Linked DNA regions of Homo sapiens. Each later gene encodes a partner of the first gene's protein in a complex. Each region holds a gene or a part of one and is shown on either strand. Other genes may lie near its edges. The genes, in order: GNAI3, CASR and RGS8.

Region 1 (3,824 bases):
TATGGGGGTGTAGTTTAACATGGTGATTAATAGCATGGGTCCTGAAGTCAGACTGCTTTAAATCCTAATTCCCATTTACTAGTTATAGCCTTGGGAAAGTTAATTTCTCTTGGCCTCAGTTTTCTTATCTTTAAAATGGAGAAAATAGAGCTACTCCTAGGATTGCTGTGAGGATTAAATATGGTAATAATGTAAAGCAGAACACAGCTTGGCACATAGTACTAGCTCCATGAAGATTAGCTATTCTTATTAAGTCAAAATGAATGTTACAGATTGTAGGTATTATGGAAATTATACCAAATTAAGCAGCTAGTGTGGGCCAGATTATTTACAGACACTTCAGTATTGTAATTCTTCCTTTGATAACCTTTGGTTTGAATTTCATTTAGATGTTCTTGGAAAGGGCTGGGCGTGGTGGCTCCTGGCTGTAATCCCATCACTTTGGGAGGCCGAGGCTGGTGGATCACCTGAGGTCAGGAGTTCGAGACCAGCCTGGCCAACATGGCGAAACCCCATCTCTACTAAAAGTACAAAAATTAGCCGGGCGTGGTGGTGTGCACCTGTAGTCCCAGCTACTTGGGAGGCTGAGGCAGGAGAATCGCTTGAACCCGGGAGGTGGAGGTTGCAGTGAGCAGAGATGACGCCACTGCACTCTAGCCTGGGTGACAAAGTGAGACTCTTTGTCTCAAAAAAAAAAAAAATAAAGTGTTCTTGGGAAGATCTTGGTATATCAAATTAGTGTTTAATTATGACATTCTATTGAAAAAATACCATGCAAAGCTTCCCAACCAATGTTCCAGTGCTTAGGATGGCATATAGGTGTGCTGTTTACAAATTTTTTATAGCATTGAAATTTTAAATCATTTTTATAAGTTCAAACTTTTACAACAGTTGAAATTACATTTGAACATCTTTGGTATGATTTCCTCTTGTATAATTCATGAATTTGGTAATTTGGTTATTTACTATTTAAACAATTAGAGATGGGGGTCTCATTATGTTGCCCAGGCTGGTCTCAAATGCTTGGCCTCATGTGATTCTCCCATCTCAGCCTCCCAAAGTGCTGGGATTACCAGTGTGAGCCACTGTGCCTACCCTACCATGAATTTGGTAATTTGAAAAAATTTTATTTGGTATAAATACTAAATTTATACCAATTTAATATTTAATATCATTTGTAATACTTTGTATTTTTTTCATGCCATAATTTCATAATAAGAAATTTTGTGTGTGCGGGTTTTGTTTTTGTTTTTTTTTGACCCCAGGGCAAGCAAGAAAATTTTTTTTCACCAAGCTCTTTCAGCTCACCCCAATGAGCCTTACAAATATTTTTAATGTGTGCCATCATGTGACAAAGGTTGGGAAGCACTGGTATAATGGATAAGAGCACTGCTTTTGGATTCACACAAAACTGAATTTAAGTTCTACCTCCACTTATTAGCTCTGAGACCCAGAGCAAGTAACTTAACCATAAGAATAATAATTTTTACATATGTAAAGCAGAGATGATGTTTCATAATATGAAATGAGATAATGCATGTAAAATGCTTCACATTAGTGCCTAGCAAATAAAAAATAGTAAGTGGTCACTTCTATTGATGATGATGATCGTGAGAATTACCATTTTAGCTACTTTTTTCAGAGGTTTTTCAGACAGCTGTTTTATTATTTTTCATATTAATATACTATTTTCAAAGATCTTCAAAGAATTTTAATATCCTTTTGTGGTGAAAGGAATTAAATGTTAGTCCTTTTTTTTTACTCATCACTGTACTAATGAAGATACTTAGTTTTGTAAATTATTGAATTATCTGCTCTCTGTATTTCTGTTTCTTGATAGTTTCCTTTAGCAGGTTCTGAGAAAACATAAAAAAAAACTTTGTTCTTTGGGATTTGCTGGTGGTAGTATGGCAAAAAGCCAGTTGCATGCAGAGAACTGGAATCATCTAATTTACTTAAACTCTATATTATACAGTTAATTATATTTAAATTGCTGCATATTATTGGCTGAATATGCTTATTATTGAGAATAAGACTGCCCTTTGGTAAACATGCCATTACATTATATCCTCCTATGGGATTATACCCTTTATTATGTTTGCCATTTGCTTGGGATAAGGTTCATGGCCAGTTACATTTCATGTGAGGATGCATCTGTGTTTCGGGGAAAAAAAGCTTTGTGTTTTATAAGCATGTATCATTCTTTGTGTCTTTTATTTAAATGCATTAGTCACTTTTTTAACATTTCAATAGGTTTTTGGGGAACAGGTTATGTTTGGTTACGTGAATAAGTTTAGTGGCAATTTCTGAGATTTTGGTGCACCCATCACCTGAGCAGTCTACACTGTACCCAATGTATAGTCCTTTATCCCTCACCACCTTCCCACCCTTTCCCCCGAGTCCCCAAAGTCCGTTGTATCATTCTTAGGCCTTTGCATCCTCATAGCTTAGCATCCACTTACAAGTGAGAACGTACGATGTTTGGTTTTCCATTCCTGAGTTACTTCACTTAGAGTAATCGTCTCCAGTTCCATCCAGGTTGCTGCAGATGCCATTATTTCATTCCTTTTTATGGCTGAGTAGTGTTCCATGGGTGTAGAGGGGTGTGTGTGTGTGTGTGTGTGTATATCACATTTTCTTTATCCACTCGTTGATTGATGGGCATTTGGGCTGGTTCCATATTTTTGCCATTGTGAATTGTGCTGCTATAAACATGCGTATGCAAGTATCTTTTTTGTATAATGGCTTCTTTCCTCAGGGTAGATACTCAGGAGTGAGATTGGTGCATCAAATGGTAGATATACTTTTAGTTCTTTAAGGAACCTACACACTGTTTCCCATAGTGGTTGTACTAGTTTACATTCCCACCAACAGCGTGAAGGTGTTCCCTTTTCATCACATCCACACCAACATCTATTTTTTTTTTATTATGGCCATTATTGCAGGAGTAAGGTGGTATCACATTGTAGTTTTGATTTGTAGTTCCTGATAATTAGTGATGTTGAGCATGTTTTCGTAAGTTTGCTGGCCATTTGTATATCTTGTGAGAATTGTCTATTCAAGTCCTTAGCCCACTTTTTGATGGGATTGTTTTTTTCGTGCTGATTTGATTTCCTTGTAGATTCTGGATATTAGTCCTTTGTCAGATGTATAGATTGTGAAGATTTTCTCCCACTCTGGGTTGTCTGTACTCTGCTGATTTCTTTTGTTGCTCAGAAGCTTTTTAGTTTAGTTGAGTCCCATTTATTTATTTTTATTTTTGTCTTTGCATTTGCTTTTGGGTTCTTGGTTGTGAAGTCTTTGCCTAAGCCAATGGCTAGAAGGGTTTTTCCAATGTTATCTTCTAGAATTTTTATGGTTTTGGGTCTTAGATTTAAGTCAGTAGCCCTATACACCAACAGCAACCAAGCTGAGAATCAAATCAAGAACTCAACCTTTTACAGTAGCTGCAAACAAAAAACAAACAAACAAACAATACTTAGGAATATACTTGACCAAGAAGGTGAAACACCTCTACAAGGAAAACTACAAAACACGGCTGACAGAAATCATAGATGATACAAACAAATGGAAACACGTCCCATGCTCATGGATGGGTAGAATCAATATTGTGAAAATGACCATACTGCCAAAAGCATATCTACAAATTCAATGCAATTCCCATTAAAGTACCACCATCATTCTTCACAGAACTAGAAAAAACAATCCTAAAATTCATGTGGACCCAAAAAAGAGCCCGTATAGCCAAAGCAAGACTAAGCAAAAAGAACAAACCTAGAGGCATTAGATTACCTGACTTCGAACTATACTGTAAGGCCATAATC
Region 2 (3,600 bases), on another chromosome or scaffold:
GTTACAGAGGGGTGCAAAGACAAATACTACAAAAATGATACTCCTTCCTTGACATAATCCATAGGAACAAAAGAAGTAAAAAGGGCATATCTTTTTTCACCTTGTGATCCACTGTTATCTAATTGTATTGTCTGTGTACCACCCAATACCATGCTTCCAATCTCTACTGGAAGATGTACACACTGGGACACACTGGTAAAGTGATCAAGCACCAGGACTGTAAGTCAAGCTGATCAGGTTCAGCTCTTGGCTCTGCCAACTCCTAGCCACCCAACCCTAAATACCTGAAACTGTATGCATCAGTTTCTTCGTCTTTAAAATGGAAGCAATAATAGATCTTCAGAGTAATACTTTCTTAAAGATAGTGCCCAAATTTGGACATTATGCCCAGGTGTAATCCGACCAGTGAAGAGCATCAGTTCAGCCTAAGATTGCAGCCTCATTCGGGTTTTGAACTGAACTCGTTCAGCCTTTGGGTGTTCACAAAGCTGTGCTTGTAGCCAACTAAAATAAAATCTAAGGTATTTTGATAGGCACCACTACTGAGCCACATCCTCCATTACTTACATTGCTGGGTGTTTCGGCCTGAGGGAGGACTTCACATTTATTCCTATTAACCAGATTTTGCCCCCTTCACTGGTGCTTTAGCATTTGCTCAGCTCCTTCTCCTACCCTGTATTTGAGGGAAAGGAAGCCAAATGGGCAGAACTTGGCCATAATGAGGATGTGTTTGACATGCTGGATTTGAGTCTGTGTTCCATTGAAGAAAAGAAATGGAAACTTTGTTGAGTATCCATTCTATACAGGGCACTTTCCTTGACTATTTCATTTAACACTCCAAGGACCCCCTGAGGTAGATGTTATCGCCATTTTGCAGAGAAGAAATCTGCATTTTTATTTGAAGTTCTTAAACATGGTAAACGACCCAATTTTCTGCTTTTTGCTTAACAGTATTTTGCAAACATTTTATCATGTTACTTCATGTTTTCCTATTTTTTTTTTGCTTTATAAATAAATACATACTCCCTCCTTATTCTAAAAAGAATTTGAAGCACTTCTGTCTTGATGTTTATCATTTTAATGGTTGTATAATGTCCCATTAAGTCACCCTAATTTATTCAACAAATTTCCTACTGTTGACAGTTTGGCTCTGTTTGCTTTTTGTGGTTTTTAAAATTATTTTCTGTAACAAATGATCCTGCTAAAAAAAAAATCTCCGCACGAATATTATTTTGTTCTGGAAATTTCCGCAAGGGTGGAATACTGCATTAAAGGGGATAATATTTTTGGTGTTTCTTTATAGAGCCTAGCAAATTGCCCACCCAAAGGAGTATGCTTTATTTGAGAGTAAAAAGCCAAAAACAAACAAACACATACAAAAAAACTGGTTTTCTACAAAAGAAATTAATTTTCCACTTATTCATAAAATATTCTAGTGCTGTGATGGGTGGCAGGCACCGTGCCAGGGGCTAGGGACAAGGATAAGCAAGGCCAGGTCCGGGCCTCCAAGCAGCGCGCTGTGGAGTCGGGTAGAGTAGACCAAGTGCAACAGGCACCTGGCTGCAGCCAGGAAGGACCGCACGCCCTTTCGCGCAGGAGAGTGGAAGGAGGGAGCTGTTTGCCAGCACCGAGGTCTTGCGGCACAGGCAACGCTTGACCTGAGTCTTGCAGAATGAGTAAGAGTTTGGGCACGCGATTTGTATTTATTTTACTGTGAATCTCTGGCCTTATATCAGAAAAAAAAAAATTGTGCCACCCTCGGCACAGAGAACGTTGGTGGCGTCGTAAGCGCCCTAAGCTTCTTTCCATCGCCAAGGAGTAGGGGTCAGGGAAGAGGACAGCGGGAACAGGATTTGAGAGCCGGGAACCCCTGGCTCGGCACGGGAGAGGGCAGGAGAGGACCTAAGCGCGGGGCTCGCCGTCTGCTGGGGACCCGAGCCGGCCTGTGGCCCTCGGGGAACCGAAGACGCGCCCTCAGCGACCCTGAAGAGTCAGCTAAGCTCTCTGCGGGCTAAGGAGACGGTGAAGGAACCGGGACTAACTGGGGTAGGGGTTAGAAGGCAGCCCGCGAGTGGGCTACGAGGGGAGCTGGGCTCGGCAGTTGGGGACCCCGAGGGGGCAAGCGGGCGGGGAGCAGGAGAGGGGCGGAGCTCCGGGGCCGGGGCCGGGGCCGCAGCGGCCGCCCAGAGGGTCTGCGGGGGCTGCTGTGGCCGGACCCGAAGGCGGGCGCCGGGAGCGCAGCGAGCCAGACGCGCCTCTCCAAGACCGTGACCTTGGCATAGGGAGCGGGGCTGCGCGCAGTCCTGAGATCAGACCAGAGCTCATCCTCGTGGAGACCCACGGCCGAGGGGCCGGAGCTGCCTCTGTGCGAGGGAGCCCTGGCCGCGGCGCAGGTAGGACCGGGGAACCCAAGGAGGGCGGGAGGAAAGCGCCCCTGGTGGGGGAGGGGCCGTGGCGGGGTCTGGGGGCCAAGGGCTCCGGGCCGAACGAGGGGCACACGCCGGAGCAGCTCCAGCCTGGGAGCATTGGGCGTGAACGTGGGGGAAAGTAGGGACCAGATTACAGGATCAAGGCTTTCCCCGGCTCAGAACTGGATTGTTCAGTGCCCCTAGAAGGGGCAGCGGGTCGCCCACGCGAATGAACGGGAGCGCGCACCAAAACGCCTGCTGTTGGTAGTTTCTTGTGCCTCTGCCTTGTTTCTGCCTGTGATATAGTCAGAAAGGACTCGCTTGCCACGTGTTAACAAGGGGACAGGTAGCTTTTACAGAGTGTATGAATATGGAGGGGAGGGCCACAGAGTCAGCTCTGGCCCCAGGGGCCGTCAGTGCCCCCACAGGATTCCTGGTCCAAGCTACCAGCTGTCTTGGGAACTTTGCTTCAGTGGCATCAAATTAGATTGTCAGTTCCCGGGGCCTGAGCACCAGCCTCCATGTGTATTTCCTGGGGAGAAAAAAAAAAGGCATACCAGACTGATGGAGTCTTATCATTATTTTAACATTATAGCTTTCAATAGATAACATGCATATGTTTCTTTTTTTAAGTCAAATAATACAAACATTTATCTTCTACAGGCAATGCGTGCACTAGCATGTGTGTCTATTGCTGTCTCCTTTCTACACCCATAGCCTTTCCCACTCTACGTGTTCTGTCGCCGTCTTTTGATTCTTTATCCAGAAAATGATGTCACCACCACTGCCCACATCCCTTAATCTCCAGTGTTCCTCCTTGCAACGCCTCTCTTGTCCTCAAATATTTTTCACAAGGTGGTCCTCAGGGTAGGGAGCCTACTAACGAGAAGACATTTCGTTTACTTGCTTCAATTATCCCAGAGATTTGAAGAAAAGGCACATTGGGGAAGAGTCCATGTCAAGTTCTAAACACACTTATCTTTCCCCTTAAACTGGATCTTCCAAGTGCAGTTTAGGTAGTCTGTTACTGAGAGAAATAATGCAGGCTGTTTTCTGAAATGCTCTGGATTTCCAGAACTTAACACCACAGTAGTTCCTATTCCTTAAAACAGAACTTCATCAGTCACACCTTGCTGTTGCTTTTCCCATCTCCACTCCAGGATTCCCTAACTGGCATGCCTAGGATTTTTCC
Region 3 (3,824 bases), about 73 Mb from region 1:
CACTGAGTGCTCTCAGTTCCCAGTTCTGTGTGAATTTCGGAGCAAATACCAGTGGGAGAACTGTCCCCAGAGTCCCAGACTCCACTCCACTATTCCCTGCTGCTGTTGCTGTGGCCGAACCCCACTCCTGGGTCTGATGGCTGTGGATTCTCCTTGCTGCGTGATTCTAGGTGTCTGGCTAGAATGGAGCTAGGAGTGAGGACATGAAAGCCATTGCCTGAAGTCATTAAAAATGGAGGATTAGAAAGAGCTTATTTTATATTCAGAGAAGGGGGAGAGTGCTGAAGCTGCTCTCTGCCCACAGCTGTAGACTCTGATGGCAAATGGTAAAGCTTTTGTTACTATCTGAGAAGGGGAAGAGATTGATAACCAGCACCCTGGCACTGAGCGATAGGAGGGAAAGCCACATTTCAGTTGTGACAGGGTTTCATGCTTGCCTCTCAGCTCCATGGCTTTGAAAACTACATCCCTCTGCTTCTCCACCTTTGGCCCTCCTGTCCCATCCATGCAGCCTCCACACCTCTCCCCACTGGGTGTGGGGCTTCTGCCTTCTCGGACTCTGATGTTCTCCCTGTGACTCAATGTTTTCATAAGCCTAAGTGATTTACAGCCCATGTTTACTTATATATTTCACTGAATTCTTGCAGTAACACAGGAAGTGGGCATTGCCTTAGTAATTCTGATTTCAGAGATGAGAAGGCAAGGTCCTAAGCCAAGGAGAGCCTGCCATAAAGGGGCAGAGTTGGAGCTTGAACCCTTGTTGCTGACCCTGGAGCCTGTGCCACTCTGTGACTCCACACTGTCTCTGTTGGCCAGCATCCTACACCAAACACAGTTTCCTCACCTACCTGCTGGGGGGCTCGTGTCAGCTCAACATACATTAACTGAGCCTTTTCCTGTTGCCGGGGACCGTGCTACATTTTGGAGGTGTAGAGATGAAAAATACGTTTTTTACCTAGGCAATGTACATAGGGAATGTAATGTACCCATGCCTGGGACCTTGCTTGGCACATAGGAGACACTTAAATGTTAGTCAGATGAATGAATGAATGAATGAACCCATGCTTTCTGCCCTTGATGAACTTAGGATCTGGTTAGGAGAAGAGAGTTGCAGGTACCTAGCTATGCCAGGTGCTGACATAGAGAAGTGTGCCTGGAAGCCATAGGAGCACAGAGGGCATTTCCTGAACTTGGGTGTTCAGGTGAGGCTTTTGGAGAAGTCGTCCTGAAGTGCAGCTTGAGGATGAGCAGGACTCACTCAGATCAAGGACATTCTGGGCAGAGGAAATGAAATAAAGGAGGCCCAAAGCCATGGAACCCTGTGATATGTGCTCATGATTATGGAAAGTGTAGAGTTATTGGGGCCTGAAGGACAAGCCAGGGAAGTGGTAGGTGACTCTCAAGGTAGCCAGACCTTGGGGTGTTTGTGTATCAGGATCCTTCTTAAGCTGGAACTTTATCCCTAGAGTAGGAGGGCTTAAAGGTTTTGAGGAGAAGGAAATGCAGTCATGTTTGTGACTAACCAGGTGATTATGGCTGCAGATTGGAGCTGAATTTAAGAAAATAGGCTGTCTCATGGGGACCAGAGACTGTGAGGACGTGAACCAGGACCGTAAGGACATGAGCCAGAGCAGTGGTAGCGAGGATGGAGGGGAGGAGACAGATTTGAAAACTATGAAAGATTTAATCAGTATGATTTGGTAATTGGTTGTCGACAGGAGATGAGAGAAAGGGAGTTGCCTGTAATTACTTTCCTATTTCTGGCTTGAGTTACTCAGTAGATGGTGGTGCCAGAAACTGAGATCAGCAATTCCAGAGGAAGCCAAGGTTTATATGTGTGTGTAGGGGGTGCGGGTGGAGTGGGAGGTGGGCGTGGTGAGGGCGGCGGATAAAATGGGCCAAGAAAAGATGGGAATATGATGTGTCCATTATTTAGATATATTTGCAGTTGTTAGGCCTGTAGGATATCTGAGGGGTATGTTCAGCAACCCAAGGACTATCGGAGTCTACATGATTGGGAGCTATTGGTGTCTACATGATGGGAGAGGGGCTAGAGTTGGACAAAAATATTTAGAAATGGTCAATATACCCAATGTAGTTAGGACTATGGGCAAGGATGAGATTGCCCAAGTAGCATGCAAGGTGAGAGAGGCAGGAAGCTAAGATTAGAGAGGAAGGAAAATACCAGTGTTTATGGGGTGGACAGAGGAGGAGGAGCCAGCAAAGGAGACCAAGGGGAAGGGCAGCCAGGGGAGTGTAATGTTGGGAAGTCAAAAGAGAGAGATCCAAGAAATGAATGGTCACCATGGCAAAGGCAGCAAAGAGGTTCATAAAGACAAGTACTGGAACATTTCCACTTGAACCTCACAGTATGGAGGCTGTGTTTCGGGGGAATGGTGGGAATGGAAGCCAAATGGCAAAGGGGTTAGGAGGGGATAGGAAGTGAGGAAGCAGAGGAGACTCTTTCAAGCAGTTTTGCTGATAAAAGGAGAAACACCCAAGGGTGTTTCCCAAGGGGAATTTTTTTAAATAAAAGAGATGAACATTGTTTTTGTTAAGTGCAGAATAACATGTGAGAAAGAGAAAATAAAGATAGAGTTCATAAAGGAGGGTCCATGGGAAAGAATAGGTGGAAGGCCACAGGAGGAAGAATTCACCTTAAATAGACACATCTGAGGGCAGCTGGAAGGAGGTCAGGGTGTGTGTAATATGGATAGATTAGTAGGAGTTGTTAGTAAGTGAAAAGAGGTCCAGGTATTTCATACCTGAGGCCTTGATGATCTTGATGGGACAGGAGATCAGGTTGTGAGGGTGTGAAGAGTTGTGTATGTTGCATAAGCTCTCTCTCTCCACTCTACCTTCCTGCCCTTCAGCTGCCCTCACAGAAACTAGTTGGCCACTGGAAAGGTCATTTGTAAAACCTGAGTTCAGTGTTTAAGGCTGTGATCATAGTAGGAACAGAGAAGGGCTGTGGAGGTGAGCAAACAGGCCATCATTTCTCTCCTTGTCCAGTGTTAACATATGGCCCTGAATTCTGCCTGTATAGATGGGCAGCTCAGCAGTGGGAACAAAGGATGTGGCTGGATTCCATCCAGGAACTCTGAGTTGGAGTCCTGGCTATGCCTCTAAGAAATGTGACATTGGACAAAGTCTTCAAAGTTTAGTTTCTGTAGGTGATGTCTAGGAGTTATACCCACTCTAAACCTCTGTGAATTTTAGCACCTGCTCCCTAGGCATAAAATAATAGACTTTTCTTAAAATGGATTTATTCAAGGGGAGAAAAACTTACAATGGAAAATGTACAGAAAATCAAGTTCCATTCAAATAGTCTCCTCCTTCTGTATTTCAGTTTTCTTGTACTTTGTTGGCTTATTTTACTGAAGCCACACATTGTAGGCACAATTTCAAATATACACAAGTCAAGAGAACAGAACAATGAGTCCCTACGTACCTACCACCCAGCTTCCCACCCAAGATGATGTTGAAGCTGTTCATGATAGCATATCATTTCAACTATAAATATTTCAGAGTATACCTCTAAAAGATAAGGTCTCTTAAAAAAGCCTCAATATCAAAATTGCACTAAAAAATAACGATAATGTCTTAATACTATTAAATATCTAATCAGTGTTTAGATTTTCTCAATTGCACTGTATTATTTTTAAAATTTTACATTTGAATCAGGATTCAACACAAAGTCCATGTATTACATTTGGCTGAGGTGTTTCTTCAGCTTTATTTTTAACCCTGATGGCCATTGTCTGCGAGGCAGCACTGTGTAATCCTCTAACATCTCCTGATTTTGTTTCATTTCCTTTGCTGTT

The links.
Region 2: the proteins of GNAI3 (region 1) and CASR are in contact, whole or in part, in a cryo-EM structure (PDB 8SZH), measured with the Homo sapiens proteins. Residues at the interface, in NP_006487.1 of Homo sapiens: Ala31, Lys32, Gln304, Glu308, Lys314, Asp315, Thr316, Lys317, Glu318, Ile319, Tyr320, Thr321, Phe334, Asp337, Ala338, Thr340, Asp341, Ile343, Ile344, Lys345, Asn347, Leu348, Glu350, Cys351, Gly352, Leu353, Tyr354; in NP_000379.3 of Homo sapiens: Lys644, Ala645, Asn647, Arg701, Val702, Val705, Phe706, Ala708, Lys709, Pro711, Thr712, Arg716, Trp719, Phe801, Ile869, Val872, Arg873, Thr876, Ala877, Ala880, Phe881, Lys882, Val883, Ala884, Ala885, Arg886.
Region 3: the proteins of GNAI3 (region 1) and RGS8 are in contact, whole or in part, in a crystal structure (PDB 2ODE), measured with the Homo sapiens proteins. Residues at the interface, in NP_006487.1 of Homo sapiens: Glu65, Gln68, Ser75, Val179, Lys180, Thr181, Thr182, Gly183, Ile184, Val185, Gln204, Ser206, Glu207, Lys209, Lys210, His213, Ala235, Glu236, Asp237, Glu238; in NP_001095920.1 of Homo sapiens: Thr76, Glu77, Phe78, Ser79, Glu81, Asn82, Ala117, Pro118, Glu120, Val121, Asn122, Ile123, Asp124, Phe125, Gln126, Arg128, Leu153, Lys156, Asp157, Ser158, Arg161, Arg164.

The regions. Positions count from the first base shown.
Region 1 is NC_000001.11:109,551,477-109,555,300, forward strand, and holds part of GNAI3 (guanine nucleotide-binding protein G(i) subunit alpha-3), read left to right. Parts: intron 1-3,824. UniProt on the Homo sapiens protein: Heterotrimeric guanine nucleotide-binding proteins (G proteins) function as transducers downstream of G protein-coupled receptors (GPCRs) in numerous signaling cascades.
Region 2 is NC_000003.12:122,182,137-122,185,736, forward strand, and holds the start of CASR (extracellular calcium-sensing receptor isoform 2 precursor), read left to right. Parts: upstream 1-1,531; 5' UTR 1,532-1,676; intron 1,677-2,190; exon of another isoform or gene 2,191-2,393; intron 2,394-3,600. UniProt on the Homo sapiens protein: G-protein-coupled receptor that senses changes in the extracellular concentration of calcium ions and plays a key role in maintaining calcium homeostasis.
Region 3 is NC_000001.11:182,677,857-182,681,680, reverse strand, and holds part of RGS8 (regulator of G-protein signaling 8), read left to right. Parts: intron 1-3,824. UniProt on the Homo sapiens protein: Regulates G protein-coupled receptor signaling cascades, including signaling via muscarinic acetylcholine receptor CHRM2 and dopamine receptor DRD2.